2 linked regions of the Homo sapiens genome follow. The protein of the gene in region 2 purifies or fractionates together with the protein of the main gene of each other region. This does not show direct contact. Each region holds a gene or a part of one and is shown on either strand. Other genes may lie near its edges. The genes, in order: PDP2 and NOX5.

Evidence for each region.
Region 1: the proteins of NOX5 (region 2) and PDP2 purify together in Homo sapiens (affinity purification with mass spectrometry, with the first as the bait; 2 studies listed by BioGRID). This does not show direct contact.

The regions. Positions count from the first base shown.
Region 1 is NC_000016.10:66,886,930-66,890,754, reverse strand, and holds part of PDP2 ([Pyruvate dehydrogenase [acetyl-transferring]]-phosphatase 2, mitochondrial precursor), read right to left. Parts: 3' UTR 1-3,825. UniProt on the Homo sapiens protein: Mitochondrial enzyme that catalyzes the dephosphorylation and concomitant reactivation of the alpha subunit of the E1 component of the pyruvate dehydrogenase complex (PDC), thereby stimulating the conversion of pyruvate into acetyl-CoA.
Region 2 is NC_000015.10:69,017,469-69,021,293, reverse strand, and holds part of NOX5 (NADPH oxidase 5), read right to left. Parts: intron 1-3,825. UniProt on the Homo sapiens protein: Calcium-dependent NADPH oxidase that catalyzes the generation of superoxide from molecular oxygen utilizing NADPH as an electron donor. May play a role in cell growth and apoptosis.

The sequences.
Region 1 (3,825 bases), on a different chromosome or scaffold from region 2:
AATCGTGTTTCAGAGTCAAATGATCCACTTTAAGATGAAATTTGGACAGCTCAGTTCCAGAATATTCTAGTTTAACCTGGGAAGTTAAGACTTCCCAAAGGCTGAAGATAGGCTACTAGGGGCTGATGGACAAGAGTCAGGCCAGAGTCACTCTAAACACATCTTTGTTTTGTTCTGTATAATTAATTATACTGTATCTTCTTTAAGTAACTCAAGTTCAAGCTCTCTATATTTCACTTATGTTTAAAAGATGCCAATTTGATTGTGTCTAAACTGAACTTTACCCAGTGTGCTGAATACTAAAGACCTTTTAGGCCAAAGGAAAAAGATGTTTATATATTAACATACCTCAAAGTTTACATTTTCATTATAATAAATTAGCCTTAATGTTAACAAATAACATCTCAGAAAGCTGAATCTAAGTAGCCTGATCTATCATGCTAATTTGAGTTTGTTTTTTGTTTTTGTTTTTTTGAGATGGAGTTTCGCTCATGTTGCCCAGGCTGGAGTGCAATGGCACAATCTCAGCTCACTGCAACCTCTGCCTTCTGGGTTCAAGGGATTCTCCTGCCTCAGCCTCACAAGTAGCTGGGATTACAGGCATGCGCCACTATTCCAGGCTAATTTTTGTATTTTTAGTAGAGATGGAGTTTTACCATGTTGGTCAGGCTGGTCTCAAACTCCTGACCTCAGGTAATCCACCCACTTTGGCCTCCGAAAGTGCTGGGATCACAGGCATGAGCCACCGTGCACAGCCGACTTTTTTTTTTTTTTTTTTAATTCAAACTTTTTTTTTAGACACAGTCTCACTCTGTCACTCAGTCTGGAGTGCAATGGCACGATCACAGCTCACTCTGGCCTAGACCTCCTGGGCTCAAGAGATCCTCTCATTTCAGCCTTCCAAGCAGCTGAGACTACAGGCATGTGCCACACCTGGCTATTTTTTTTTTTTTTTGTAGAGGCAAGATCTATGTTGCCCAGGCTGGTCTCATACTGTACTCAAGTGAGTCTTCTGTCTTGGAATCCCAAAGTGCTGGGATTACAGGTGTGGGCCACTGTGCCTAGCCACGAATTTGAATTTAGAATACTATCTTATCTATCCATTTTTACCAAGCCCCAGAATCAAGAGAGATGCAGTTATATATTTTTTAAAAATCTGGTGAGGTGTGGTGGCTCATGCCTGTAATGCTAGCACTTTGGGAAGCTGAGGTGGGAGGATCACTTGAGCTCAGGAGTTCGCAGCCTGGCCAACATGGTGAAACTCTGTCTCTACTAAAAATACAAAAAATTAGCGGTGTGTGGTGGTGCATGCCTGTAATCCCAGCTACTCTGTGGCAGAGGCACGAGAGTCACTTCAATCTGGGAGGCAGACGTTGCAGTGAGCTGAGACTGTGTCACTGCACTTCAGCCTGGGCGACTGAGTGAGACTGTCTCAAAAAAAAGAAAGAAAATAAATCTAAATTATGCCAATATTATCAAAGTTTCTTACCTAAAATCATATACAATTTTAAGCACCAAAGCATACTTTCTTCAAAAGTTACATCCAAAATATTAAATGTTCAATCTCATTTTTCAGTTCATTTTAAGTCTCAATACTGAAATCTCCGTATAAAAGGAATAATAAATGCTTTGAAAGACCTGACAATTACCACTAAACTCCTCTCAAATCCCAGTGTCCTGGGGCAGTAGCCCATGTGCTTCAAGAAGTCCAATGACAGCAGGATAGTGGTCAGGGAGACAGGAGTTTAATCAGGAGGTGCTCCCCAGAATGTTCATGGAAAGAACAGATGATTCACAGTGGAAAAAAAGCAAATGATAAATAAGCCTTTCTTCTTTCTCAATATTACTAACTAGAAAGCAGGAAAATCTATTAGGCAGAGAAAAACCAGATATGCCTGGAGATACAGGTAAGGAGTCTGTGTTCTCTCAGCTGTCTCACAGGTTAATGAATCAGATATATTTATGACCCATGCTAGGCTCCAAAGTAAGATTCAGGTACTCTGTATGCCAGTAAAGGCTTCAAGGATACTCCAGGGTTTAGCTAGTATAAAGAATAAAGGACAAAGAAAATGCCAGACAACCAGCCTGAGCAACATAGCAAGATCATGTTTTCACCAAAAAAAGTTTTTTTAATTATCTGGGCCTGATGGTTCATGCCTGTAGACCCAGCTACTTGGGAGGCTAAAAGGGGAGGGAACATTGGAGTCCAGGAGTTTGACAGTGAGTTATAATGATGCCACTGCACTCCAGCATGGGCGACAAAGCAAGACCTTGTCTCAAAAAACAACAAAAAGTAAACGTCAGATAGAATCCTCAATTTTAGCAACAAACCCTCATGCTAGCAGAATGGAAGTGATTTACATTTTATTTTTGATTCAAGATCTAGGAGATAGGCTGGGTGCGGTGGCTCATGCCTATCATCCCAGCACCTTGGGAGGCCGAGGTGGGCAGATTGCTTGAGTCTAGGAGTTTGAGACCAGCCTGGGCAACATGGCAAAACCCTGTCTCTACAAAAAATTAAAAAAATTAGCCAGGCATGGTGGTGCATAGTCCCAGCTACTCGGGAGGCTGAGGCAGGAGGATCGTTTGAGCCTGGGCTGCAGAGGTTGCAGTGAGCCAAGATCATGCCATTGCACTCCAGCCTGGCTACAGGGAGACCCTGTCAAGAAGGAAAGAAAGAAAGAAAGAGAGAGAGAGGAAGGAAGGAAGGAAGGAAGGAAGGAAGGAAGGAAGGAAGGAAGGAAGGAAGGAAGGAAGGAAGGACGGACTAAGAGATAAGATGGATTTTTTTTTTTTTTTTTTGAGACAGAGTTTCACTCTTGTTGCCCAGGCTGGAGTGCAATGGTGCGATCTTGGCTCACCGCAACCTCCGCCTCCCGGGTTCAAGTGATTTTCCTGCCTCAGCCTCCCGAGTAGCTGGGATTACAGGCATGCACCACCACACCTGGCTAATTTTGTATTTTTAGTAGAGATGGAGTTTCTCCATGTTGGTCAGGCTGGTCTCGAATTCCCGACCTCAGGTGATCCATCCGCCTCGGCCTCCCACAGTGCTGGGATTACAGGCGTAAACTACTGCACCCAGCCAAGAAGGAATATTAATGGTTTCAGAATAAAAGGATCAAGGCTTAAATATTCAAAAGATAATTTCTTAGATGAAAACACATGACTAAACAGTTGCACTGAAAAATGTACAAAGAAACACCACCAAATTAGAAGTATCCCAACATTTGACTGAATGTCAGCTGGGACATAGACAAAAAACAGGAAACCAAACCTAGCTATTTGTTTTTCTTTTCAGTAGGTGGCATAAAGGGGTAAGATGAGAAAAGGGATCAACAAATGTAGTTCAACTTAATTGAAGAATTCTGCCTGACGTAGTAGAGGCAAATAAAATTGTTGGTTTTGTGGGATTATATTTGTTTCCATTTAGGGACACATTTCCTGTTGTTTAAATGCCACAGCAACTCATGAGATGAAATTCATCTCCAAAATGGATCCACATAACTGAATTTCCAAGTAAATACAAAGAGTCTACAGCCCACAGAAACCATTACAAATTACACTTTTATTTTTGCCCCAACTCCTATACTAAATATGGTCTAATTCCTGAGGACTAGCAATGGTGGTTTATCCCACAGTCTTGGGGCAAGCGTCCCATCTGATAAGTCTCACTCCTCCCTCCTGCCCACCACCTCTCAGGAAAGGATTCAGAGAAACTTGGTTAGAAACTGTTGTCCTTAAGCCTTTGTGTTTTCACCTCTCCAGATAGAGGTTGAATCTTAAGTCCACAATCCGCTAAATTAACCTGTCCTGTCTAAACGTCTA
Region 2 (3,825 bases):
TTTTTAGAGCTGAGTTCTATCTAATCTTCAAAGAATGATAAACCCAATGGTAAACCATCTTAGATCATAGAAAGAGATAGTAAGATTCCCAATTCATTTTACAAAGCAAGCTTTACCCAAATCCAATGAAAAGAGCATATGAAAAGGAAATTCTATACAAGTTTAACTTATACAAAGCTTTAACTAAAATATAACTGAATTAAATCTAGAAGGTCACTTTAAAAAAAAAACAAACCCAACCTTAGTTTAGTTAGTTAGAACCTAATTAGTTAGTTAGAACTTAGTTTAGTAATGTAAGGATGGTTCATTATTAAGACGCCTATCAACGTAATTTTTGATATCAACAAATTAAAGAAGAAAAATAGTTTTTATTATGTCAATAAATGCTAAGGAAGCACCTGATAAAGTTCAAAATTCATTCTTAATTAAAACTATAAGAAAAATGGGAGGAAATTACCTAGTTTACAAACTAGTAATTTTCTCTCTTGTTCTATGATATTTGCAATGTTTATTTAGTTTCTCTAGTTTAATGCATTAAATTCAATCTCCAAATACTAGGTATTAGTGATGGCTAGTTTCTGGGCTCAAGGGAAACAGACCAAAATCAATGATCTATATCTATCTATATTTATATGCATATAAAAATTGATATCTATATATATATATTCATATTTATTTACATCTTTACCATCTATCTTATTAGCCAAAGCAGTTACAAATGGAAATTTTAAAAAATTGTATTTATAATTGTTATTAAAAGTTGGATAATTAAATAAATGCTTTTGGCAAAATGTCTACACAGAATAAAATAATTAGATAACTACAGTATACTATTTTATTTACATTTTCTGATCAAATTATAAATGCCTAAATGTAAAAATAAATAAAATAATGAGAATTAGCAGAAATTATAGGAAATTTGTATCATCTTTAAGTAGGGGCACAAGATAGGGATCCCAAAAACATTAAGGAAAATGATCTGTAGATCTGCATATGTAAAAATTAATTTCTGCATGACAGAAGACAACAAATTCAAAAGGCAATAGGCTGAAGGAAAATATTTGCAATAAGCATGATGGAATGGTCACACCTGTTATAAAATAACAACAACTAAAAGGGCAACAATAACAGTAAATGCTTTTATTAGGTATTGATAAATTGCAGCTGTGTTAGTGTTCTTTTAACATAGAAGTCCTATAGGTTTGACAGAAGCAAAAACAAACAAACAGAAACCAGCAATGGAAAGTAGCAAAAGATATAAAAGGACAATTCATAAGAGAGAACTTATATTGGTTGATAAACATTTGAAAAGATGTTCAATTCACTTCTCATGCCTGGGGAAATGGGATTTATAACAATTATATCTTTTGTAGTTGGGGGAAGTGGTATCAGAATGCCAAAAATCAAAAGATTGGTAATATCCAATATAAACAGTGCTGGTGAGAACATGAATTGTACTATCTTTCAGGCAATTCAATTTTTAGGAATGTATCCTACAAAAATAAAAGTGTTACTGCATAATGGCCCATATCCATCATCCACCACTGTGTACTAGATTGCCATTCAAAACAGCTAAGCCCGCCCACGTTATCTATAATAGGTGTGAATTGATTTGAATAAATACAGTAGCACTGTGTGGAAGGGAATCATCAGGCTGTCAGCACTGGTCCTTAAAGAGGCAGGACTGGAGGGGAGAAAGAGGATTTCAGTTCTGTATTGCTTTACGCCTCAGTATGATTGATCTGATGGTATCCATGAGCATACACCATTCTTGTGATAATCTTTGAAAACTCTTCATTTTGAGATAATTATGGATTCACATACAGGTATGAGCCATAATGTAGAGATTTCTTTATTCCGTTTCTCCCAATTGTAATATCTCACAAAATTGTAGTACAATATCACAAAGAGGATACTGACATTGATAGAGTCAAGATACAGAACTTTCCACCACAAGACTCTCTCAAGTTGCCGGTTCACAGCCACACCTACATCCCTCCCTGCCCCCTTCCATGGCAGGTGGGCAGTGGGCAAAGTCCTGACTCTCCACTGGGCCTCCTCTGACCATCCCAGTCGGGAGGAGGAGGGAGTACCTCGTTACTGCCGGGTATGACAATTAAAAAGCAAGCAAGGCCGGGGGTGGTGGCTCATGCCTGTAATCCTAATACACTGGGAGGCTGAGGCAGGAGGACTGCTTGAGTTAAGGAGTTTGAGACCAGCCTGCGCAACATAGTGAAACCTCATCTCTACAAAAATTTAAAAAATTAGCCAGGCATGATAGCATGCACCTGTGATCCCAGCTACTCTAGCAGCTGAGGTGGGAGGATGGCTTGAGCCTAGAAGGTCGAAGCTAAAGTGAACTTTAATCACACCATTGCACTCCAGCCTGGGCAACAGAGAACCCATCCCTTATAACATAATAAAATATAAAATAGAATAGAATAGAGCAAACAAAAAATCCCTCTCCATCCCCTGACCTTTAATCCTGTGCCATCAGTGAGCTCTGGCCCGGGATGTGGCTCCCCAGGGCAGCTTCTCCAAAAGGTGATATCAAGGGTGTTACTGGCCTCTTATCCCCCAGCAAATTAATACCTTAGTAAAACAAACATTTTACACGGCACAACCTCATCCCAGAACACACCTGTGAGGCAAGTGGCTCAACAGGTACAGCCCACTGATCAGATGAGAATCCGCCCTCTGAAGCACGGTTCCCAGCTTTGGGCGTCCAGTAACACAAAAGAGTCTTGTGGGGGTGGGGGTGGGGGTGGTCCTCACTTGGTGGGAGAGGTGCACTGTCAGCATCTCCCTAGGTTGTGTCCCAGCTAACTGTAATTCCCTATCAGAGCAGCGTTTTCTAGGTTAAAATAAGGGCTTATGGAGACCAAGCTTTCATCATTCAGGTAAAGCCTCCACGTAGCAGGCTTCAAAGACAACAGAGTGTAAATGTTTCTTATCAGACTTAAAGAGTCTGTTGCTGGCTCACACCAACTCCGCCAGCTGCCTCTCACCTGCCTGAGCAAGTACCCGGTCCCCAGGCCTGGCCCTGCAGCCTCCTTGCCCATTCTCCCTGCCAATCCCTAGGAATCCCACCTGCTGCTTGTTCCTCTTTCTCTGAAACCCAAATGGGAGTTGGAGTTTCCCTAGGATGCCTGAGCAACCGGCGCCTCTGGGGCTCCATGAGTGCGGTCCGGTCCATGGACCGCCCACAATTGCATCATCTCAAGAGTTGAAAGTGCACATTCTCTGCAGCCCCAGATCTTCAGGACCAGAAGCTCTGAGGTTTGGGCCCTGGGAGTGTGAATTCTAGCAAGCATTCTCAGAGCCGCTGGTATTACTGAGTGAAAAGAAACCCTCAGACAGCACTTCCATGGTTTTCTAAAGTGCCTCGTGCCTGCTGGGTGATCCTGTGCCAGTTATTTGACCTCTGTTTCTCTGTTTGACCTCTTTATAGGCATGTGTCTTATGCTATATATGTGTGGCATGTATTTGAGTGTGTGTGTGTGTGTGTGTGTGTGTGTATAAAATATATCAACAAAGAGTCAAACTATAAAATACTTGAAGATACTTACTCTGAGCCAAATACGAGTGACCAATGGCCTGTGACACAGCCCTCAAGCTATCCTGAGAACATATACCCAAGGCTGTTGGGTCACAACTTGGTTTTGTACATTTTAGCAAGACATAAAACATCAATCAATACATGTAAGTTGTACATTGGTTCTGTCCGGAAAGGTGGGACAGCTGGAAGCAGGGGCTTCCGGGTCGTAGGTAGATTCAAAGATTTTTCTGATTGGCAATTGGTTAAAAGAATTAAGTTTTTGTCTA